Linked DNA regions of Homo sapiens: region 2 is reported to be linked to region 1. Evidence: microRNA targets listed by miRTarBase, many of them from high-throughput screens and not tested one by one. Region 1 holds a microRNA gene; the other region holds the end of a gene's coding sequence.
What was found. The annotated mature microRNA hsa-miR-6752-5p reads GGGGGGUGUGGAGCCAGGGGGC and lies in region 1 at 1,998-2,019, shown strand. An mRNA with a match to its seed (bases 2 to 7 or 8) in the 3' UTR can be bound and repressed. Matches are read on the target gene's strand: a 7mer-m8 pairs with bases 2 to 8, a 7mer-A1 pairs with bases 2 to 7 and ends in A, and an 8mer does both.

Region 1 (4,228 bases):
TGTTTACTTCTAGCTTTGGGATGCCCAGCGCGAGCCAGTCCAGAGCCAAGACTCAGGAAATGCCCGCTGATGGCAGCCCGGCAGTCAGCCCCTGTCCAGACAACAGGGCAGTGGGAGGAGTGGGGAGGACCCGGGTAGGAGGAATCTGGTTATCTGGTTCCCACCAGCCTAGCAGCTTTGCCAAGCAAGAGATTAGAGGCTAGGTCCCCTATGCCTGTCTCCCTGTGGGGTTTTTTTTTTTTTGACTAAGTCTCACTCTGTTGCCCAGGCTGGAGTGCAGTGGCGTGATCTTGGCTCACTGCAACCACCATCTCCTGGGTTCAGCTGATTCTCTGCCTTAGCTGCCTGAGTAGCTGGGATTACAGGCACCTGCCATCGTGCCCGGCTCATTTTTGTATTTTAGCAGAGACGCGGTTTCACCATGTTGGTCAGGCTGGTCTTGAACTCCTGACCTCAGGTGATCCGCCCGCCTTGGCCTCCCGAAGTGCTAGGATTACAGGCGTGAGCCACCACATCCGGCCTCCCTGAGGGTTTTGAAGTGGCTGGCCTGGGCCCAGCTCTGAGGTAGGCCCTCAGTGGGGTGTGGGTGGGGCAGAAGGAGGAGCTGCTGGGAACAGAATGTGGGGGGCCCCAGTTCTTTGCATAGTCCAGCAAAGGGCCTTATCCTCTGGAGGGAGAGGAGGTAAGAATTCTACTGGGCCTGTAAGGACCAGGGAGACAGGGGTTGATGGTAGGCATGTGTCTGTGGTGGGGGTGAGGAGGGGGTTAGGTGCTCTGTTTGGTGGCCAGAGAATGTGGCAGAAGCTGGGGCTTCACCAGGAGAGAGGGCTGAGCGACTGGAGGAGTCCTGAATTAAAAGCCTCCTGTGCTTAAACGGAGTAGGGTCCCAGTTGTCACTCTCTGGGCCTTGGTGTTTGTTCTCAGATGGTGGTGGGGAAGGGGGCTGGGCCTTGTGGACCCGGTGACCAGCCAGCCCACGGTGACAGAGCCCCCGGCGCCCTTGCCTTCCCGCAGCATGTGGTCCTGTACCCGCTGGTGGCCAAGAGTCTCCGCAACATCGCGGTGGGCAAGGACCCCCTGGAGGGCCAGCGGCACTGCTGCGGTGTTGCACAGATGCGTGAACACAGCTCCCTGGGCCATGCTGACCTGGACGCCCTGCAGCAGAACCCCCAGCCCCTCATCTTCCACATGGAGATGCTGAAGGTGAGGGGCCACCGCGCCTGGTCTCACCAGGCCCCCACTGCCCAGCCTCAGGGCGGCGCTGGCCTGTCCACCCAGGGGTGGTGGGATCCGCAGGTGGACTGCTGGGGGAGCGGACAGAGACAAGAAAACCTGTGCAGGACCCTTGGCAGTACCCTGGGTCTCCTTTCCTCCTCCTTCACATCTCAAATGTCACCTCCTCCAGGAAACCGGCCCTGCCCACCCGGTCTCCTCATTCTCTGTCTCGCAGCAGCTCATTTCCTTTATAGCCTCTGCCGCACCTTGAAGTCCCTTGGAATTCATGGATTTCCTTGTCCATTTAGGGAACCTGCCATGCAGCATGATCTCTGCGAGGGCAGGGCTTTTCACCGTCTTGTTCACTGTTCTATTCTTAGCACTTGGCACAGTGCTGGGCACACAGGAGATGTGACATCGATGTTTGATGCTTTTTGAGTGACAAGTAGCTCTGCTGCTGGTGTGTGATGTCTGGGGGCCCAGCCAGCCCAGATGTGGGTCAGGTCTGCTGCTGACGGACGCAGCTGTGGTGTCCCCGAGCCCCGCTGTGATATGCCCCATGCCCTGCAGGTGGAGAGCCCTGGCACGTACCAGCAGGACCCATGGGCCATGACAGACGAAGAGAAGGCAAAGGCAGTGCCACTTATCCACCAGGAGGGCAACCGGTTGTACCGCGAGGGGCATGTGAAGGAGGCTGCTGCCAAGTACTACGATGCCATTGCCTGCCTCAAGAACCTGCAGATGAAGGTACTGCCTGGAGGCTGAGGGGGAGGATGGATGGAGGGGGGTGTGGAGCCAGGGGGCCCAGGTCTACAGCTTCTCCCCGCTCCCTGCCCCCATACTCCCAGGAACAGCCTGGGTCCCCTGAATGGATCCAGCTGGACCAGCAGATCACGCCGCTGCTGCTCAACTACTGCCAGTGCAAGCTGGTGGTCGAGGAGTACTACGAGGTGCTGGACCACTGCTCTTCCATCCTCAACAAGTACGACGGTGAGCACCGGGCCCTGGGCTGCCGGGGGCTGCGAGTGGTCAGAGAGTGGCCTTTCTCCTGTCACTGCTGGGGTCAAGACCTAGCCTTTCACAACCCCCATTCTGAGCTCCCACGGGGGCCTGACTAAATGCCTCTACTCGGCAGGGCTGTGGGCCCCATTGTGCCAATGAAGCATGAATGGTGTATTGGGGGTGGGGTGGCATCCTCAGGTCAGGGAGGGCTCTCTCTCCCCTGTGGGCCCATGGTGCCAGGAGACATGAGGGCAGGCAGCTGGCCAGGATCCCCCCTCATGCCCTTGCATGCCCACTGCCCACTGGCCTCCCCTGCAGACAACGTCAAGGCCTACTTCAAGCGGGGCAAGGCCCACGCGGCCGTGTGGAATGCCCAGGAGGCCCAGGCTGACTTTGCCAAAGTGCTGGAGCTGGACCCAGCCCTGGCGCCTGTGGTGAGCCGAGAGCTGCGGGCCCTGGAGGCACGGATCCGGCAGAAGGACGAAGAGGACAAAGCCCGGTTCCGGGGGATCTTCTCCCATTGACAGGAGCACTTGGCCCTGCCTTACCTGCCAAGCCCACTGCTGCAGCTGCCAGCCCCCCTGCCCGTGCTGCGTCATGCTTCTGTGTATATAAAGGCCTTTATTTATCTCTCTCTGAGTCTGCTGAGCTGCTCCACTGGGAGAGCCGGGTCATCACCTGGCATTCCTGGTACTTGGGTGGCTGTTGGGAGGCAAAGAATCAGGGTTCAAATCCTAGCCCCTCCACCCACCAGCTCTGAGGCTCTGGTGTCCCTGTTAGAGAAATTACGATGAGCTCTTTCACCAAGGAAGTGTCTCTCGCTGGCCAGGGCTGGGGCGCCCCAGGAGCCCACAGTCTTAAGGGGGAGATGAAGTGGGTACAAGCTAGGTAGCTGGGCACCTGAGGGAGGTAGTCTCCTGGTGCTGCCCTCCCACTCCAGCCTCGGATCCCATGGTCTCCTGGCCTCGGTGTCTGGGGGCAGGGTTTCCATGAGAAGCTACGCTGGGGCTGAGGTGAGCCGGGTTGGGCTGGGGTGGGCTGACTGTCCAGAAAGAGGAGAGGGCCGAGCGCTTCGTGAGACCTTTTGAGGCCCAGGCCCCCATCCTGACCTGCCTGTGACATGGATGGCCCTGGGCGTGGGTTTCGTGCGACCTTTTGAGGCCCAGGCCCCCATCCTGACCCTGCCTGTGAGCTGGATGGCCCTGGGTGTGTGTTGGCCTCTCTGTGCACATCAGTGTCCCCTGTTGAACTGGAAACTGGGCTGGCTGCCCTGTGATGCCAGGCATGGGGTGAGTGGGTGGGGTGCAGGTGGCGTTTATTTTCATGGATTTATACACACTGGAAAAGCCTCTGCGCCCATGCCCACGCCCTCCTCCCTCCCCCCGGCGCTGGGTCCCCTCATATGAAAGGGAAGTAACACCGAGGAGCACACGGAGATATAGGGTGTGGGGCTGGGGGGGCCAGCGCTGGGGCCAAAAGTCTGGGTCCCCAGCCTCCCACACGCAGCCCCTCGGGCCCCTTGGGTGTGTCAATAAATAACCCAGGTCCAGGCTGGTGTGGGCCTCACTCCTCGCTGTCCAGCTTCAGGCTGATGCTCCGTGCTTTGCCCCGTGCCAGGGTGGTGGGTGGTGTTCCCGGGCCCTCACGCTCCGCCTGGCTGGGGCCCCTCGAGCGAAGCAGCTGGCTCTGTTTGCGCAGGAAGTCCACGGGGGCAGCCACACCATAGCTGCTCTTGCCCAAGGCAGCTCTCGGGGGTCCCGAGGAGGCATGCGAGTGCGAGCCCGCTTCCAGCTGGCCCAGGTGGGCCACATAGCCGTCTGACAGGAACTGTGGGCAGAGGTAGGCAGCGATGAGGGGGTGCTGGCCAAGGGCCCACACGCTGCCCTCCACGGTCCTCCAGAGGCACCTGAGGCAGGCTGGGGGACTGGTGGCAGGCTTGGCACAGCCTGAGCTGAAGCCTTCTCAATAGATAGGACCCCAGGCTGGGAGCCAGGGCACCTTGGCTGTGCTC
Region 2 (4,113 bases), not on the chromosome of region 1:
GCTGCGTTGCTCCACCTCCCTGGGCCTGTTTCCTAATCAGCAAAATGGGGAATAAAGCACCTGCTTCTCAAGGTTGTTTCCAGATGATGAGAGATGACGCCCAGGCCATGCTGGCACAATGTGTAGAGTGGAAGTATTGGTTCTCTTGCCCCTTCTTACTGTCCTCCTTGGTCTGTTTTTTCAGCTGTCAGTAATGAGGAGGACAGTGGTGGGTGCTTCATCCTGGACCTGGGCCTACAGTTTCCACCATAATTTACTTGGGAAATGCAGGCACCTGAAGTTGCTTCGAATGAGAGATGGGAGGTGGGGGAACGGAGGAAGCAAAATAACAAACCTAGTTCAACAAAGAGGAAACATGAGAGGCTGGAAGGCCCCCCCCTCCCCCCACCTCTCCTCCTTTTTCTCTTACCCCCAAGATCTGCCCTGGCTGCCTCCTGCTTCCCGCTCTGTACCTGACGGTTCTCCAGGGCCCCAGCGGCTGCCCGGTCCCCAGCTGGTGCCGCTCCTGTCTCCTGAATCTGACCCAGGCCCCTCCTGCAATCTGACCACCACCCCTGCCGCCAGCTGCTTCCTCTTTGTCTCCTCTCCCAAGATCCACACTCGGATCCACACTGGGCATGACACACAGTGACCGCTGGCCCATCCCTTCATCTGCACCCGGTATAAGGTGGCCCTGACTCTGCTCCCTGCCAGCTCAAGTCTCTCACCAGACATGGTGGGGACAGCTGGGCTCCCTGGGCTTGCCTCTCACAGGTCCCTCTCAGCTTTCCAGTCTCCATCCTCTCAGCTTCAGTTTTCCCTGCCTGGGAAATCGGAGTTGGGAAACCTAAGAGCTCCTTTTGTGTTAGGAACCTGAGGAATTATGCGGTCCAGAGATGTCATCAGCTATCAGCTGTGACCAACTGGGGGCTGCCTATAGCGCAGCATTGCAGAATCTGAAGCTGCACCCAGGCTCTGCAGGAGGAGAGCTGTGTTCAATTAGAAATGTCTGCCGTGCATGGGTGCAATTGATTAGTAATGTCTGCCATGAGTGTGGCTTTATGAATGCCAGGAATTGCCATCCCTGGTCTGGTCCAACTTTTATCAGGACACTATCTATCTATCATCTATCTACCTATCTGGAGGGAGGGGGATAGAGGGGGGGGGAGAGAGAGAGAGAGAGAGAGAGAGAGAGAGAGAGAGAGAGAGAGAGAGAGAGGAGAGAGAGAGAGATTCGTCATCAAGTGCAATATTTCCCCAGGCATAGACTTGTGGGATATGGCCATGAGCTGATACCTGGACACAGAATAAGACAGACAGTCCTGACTCCTATTAGTGAAAAAGATATTCCCTTTACAATCCTTTTCCTTTCTCTCAAGGAGGAAGTTTGCATTTGGCCCTGGGATGTCTTCGACAGCTCCCCAGCAGCTTCTCATTTCCCCTTTAAGAGACAACAGGTTTACCGCAGGCAATGAATATCAACACTATTTTGTTGCATTGTACTTATTTTGTACAGTTACCTTTTATTTATAGCGAAAATGGGTTTTTTCATTTACAGAGTAACAAAGATTTTTCTTTAAATAAATGTATTTCAACGAAAATGAACTGACTTAAAGAAAAAATATTAAGGAAATAATCACAAAGATGGTACACACGGATCATTAAAAGATACGGATGTATAGATACATATGTCACAAATGATTAAGACTTAAAAAATGTAACCCTCCCAAGAAGTGGGAGCCTCCCAAAGTGGAGAAGGCAAATACAATTTCCATTTGGGGGGATAAGGAGACCGACTTGCAGAGAGGATTAGTAGGTTGCCCCAGAACACACAGCAAAGGTGTGGAGCCCCTTGTGGTCTGAAACATTCAGGACCCTATGGCAGGAGGTGAGACTGTCCAATAATTCAGCTTTTTTCAAGGCATAGACCCAAGACTCAGACAACCTCAAGAAAGGGGAGTTTATTTTGGATATAAAGGCAACAGGAATCCTGACCAAATGGTCAGCAGCCCTCTCAGCAGTAGGTATTTTTGTATTGGGAACCCAAGGTCCTCTGCTTAGTGGCTCAACGCTTGTCTACCTTTCCAAGGCTCAACGCTTGTGGAGCCTTGTCCACAAGCACCTGCTCCCAAGGGCCTCCCTCCCTGAGTTCAAACGCCCAAGACAGAGTTGATCTGATTGGCTAGTTCAGGCCCAGCCTACCTGATTGGACAGAGCTTGGTGCCAAACCCCCTCATAGGCTGCTGGTCAGAGCCTGTGGGGGCGTGTGGTCAGGTGCCCAATCAGCTGTGAGCAAGGCCTGTAAGTGCAGGTGCCTGAGGGCTCCCAGGTCAGAGTTAGCTGGGACTGGGGTCACTGTCCTGCTGGGGTGGAATGTTGTTTGAGCCATTGCAACGTGATCTGCCTAGGAAAGATACGTGGAGGGGTCGGGGTAGGGGGTTGAGCCCCTTGCAGGAGGGGGCATGCCAGACCTAATGGGCACGGGACTCTGCCTCTCTGTGTGAATGTCAGGCGCAGGGAGCCCAGACGAGGTGGTGCCAGGTAATTAATTCGTTCATCCAGGGTATACGACGGGGTGTTGGGCACTGTGTCTGGGGCAGTGAAAAATAATGAGGCCCTGCCCTGTGGAGCTGCCCTTCTGGAGGCCAGTGTGCCAGTCCCTGAGCTGCAGAGGAGACCCCTCCAGTGGAGGGGGCAGTGGGAGGTCCCAGGCCTGGCAGCATCAGGGCCCACCACTAGGCGGGGCTGCTGCCTGGGCCTCGGACTCCAGGGTTTACTCCCCATCAGCTTCTCTTGTGGGTCTGTGAAGCCACTGTGGGAAGATGCAGCAGGCATCCACTTTGTGGGGGGATCTGTGCCCTTACTTGGGCCCCAGCATTAAAGATACAGCAGCCAAGCACTCTGAGGCCTCAGAGATCCCAAAGGAATAGTAACAGGGCCTCTTTCTCCAGGCGCCCTGGGTCCCTGACAGCTTCTCCCTCCAGCACTGACGCTAGAAGTTTCTGGCAGATTAAGGGAGGCAGTGCTTCCCTCCAGGAGAAGCAAAACCGGCACTTGAAGAGTCAGGGAAGTTTGTCACCTAGATGAGGGGGAGCGCACAGCAGCCCCAGGGAATAGCATGTGCAACAGAGGGGGTGTGAGGGAGCTCTGAGTGGCTCAGGAGGACGGTAGGGAGGATTGCAGAAGGGGATGTCCCCACACGACACCGGAGGTACAAGTACCAGGCTGAGAAGTGGGGCTGAGGGCAGTGGGACCTGTGCAAGGTTTTGAACCGAGGGGGAGCGTGGCCATATTTGGGTTTTGGAAAGCACGCTCAGGCTGCCCTGTGGACGGGGAGGGGAGGGAAGGAGGAGGCTGGGGCAGAAAACCCAGGGAAGAGGTCAGGGCAGGGAGCCCTGGAGAGCCGCGAGGACTGATATTGGTGAATAGCTGCAGGGCTGGAGAGGAGCGATGCTTCTGAGCCTAAATTCGTGGGATCCTGTGATTAACGAGGGAGTTGGGGAGTTACTGCCCCCCTGCAACACACACAGTTCCTGGCTCGGGCAGCAGGACCCGGGAGCAGCAGTGGAGGTTTGGAAATGGATGGACCAAGTGTGCAGGACTGGGTGGGGGCCATCCGGGTGGAGAAGTCCAGCTGCAACTGGACACTGAGTGTCCTCAGCAGTGGACTGAGGACCCTCAACAGGGTCCTTCTGAGGCTCGGCGCAGAGCAGGCAGCTGCCTGCCTCCCACCCTGGCCATCTGTCTACACCAAGTGAGTTGGGTCCTGACCCTGGAGTTCTTGGAGGGACAAGTAGGCATCAGTGTTCAGGGGCAGGCGAGCATTAAGGGCCCTGAACTCCCCCTGCCCAGGAGGCCTGGACCAGGGGAAACTGACTCCCTCCCTGGGGCCAGCGTCAGGGACCTCCTCCCCAGCCTCTCGCAGCACCAGCTCAGGGGGTGGCTGAAAATCCACCAGGTCTGGGACTCCTGGGGTGGGAGGCCCCAGGGGCTGGGGGTCCCAGTCTCTGGGGACTCTTTCTTGCAAAGAAGGGGGCATCCTCTCTTCACCGGCCCCACTGCCCCCAGGGGCAGTGCTTGGGGGGCTGGGGCCACCGAGGAGACTGGGGGAGAAGAGCAGCAGGTCATCCCTGG

Region 2: the mRNA of IL2RB is a reported target of hsa-miR-6752-5p. Seed matches in the 3' UTR shown: 7mer-m8 at 3,110-3,116.

The regions. Positions count from the first base shown.
Region 1 is chr11:67,488,253-67,492,480 of GRCh38, forward strand. MIR6752 (microRNA 6752) reads left to right here and starts at 1,993; the gene lies at 1,993-2,063. AIP (AHR interacting HSP90 co-chaperone) reads left to right here. Exons shown (of 6, transcript NM_003977.4): 3 at 1,015-1,203; 4 at 1,786-1,962; 5 at 2,064-2,205; 6 at 2,536-2,851. The coding sequence ends at 2,741. PITPNM1 (phosphatidylinositol transfer protein membrane associated 1) reads right to left here. Exons shown (of 24, transcript NM_004910.3): 24 at 3,516-4,044. The coding sequence ends at 3,781.
Region 2 is chr22:37,124,372-37,128,484 of GRCh38, forward strand. It overlaps IL2RB (interleukin 2 receptor subunit beta), which reads right to left. Exons shown (of 10, transcript NM_000878.5): 10 at 1,472-4,113. The coding sequence ends at 3,725. Among named protein-coding and RNA genes, the nearest start is that of TMPRSS6, 17 kb to the left of the region's middle. RefSeq lists an enhancer at 2,777-2,826.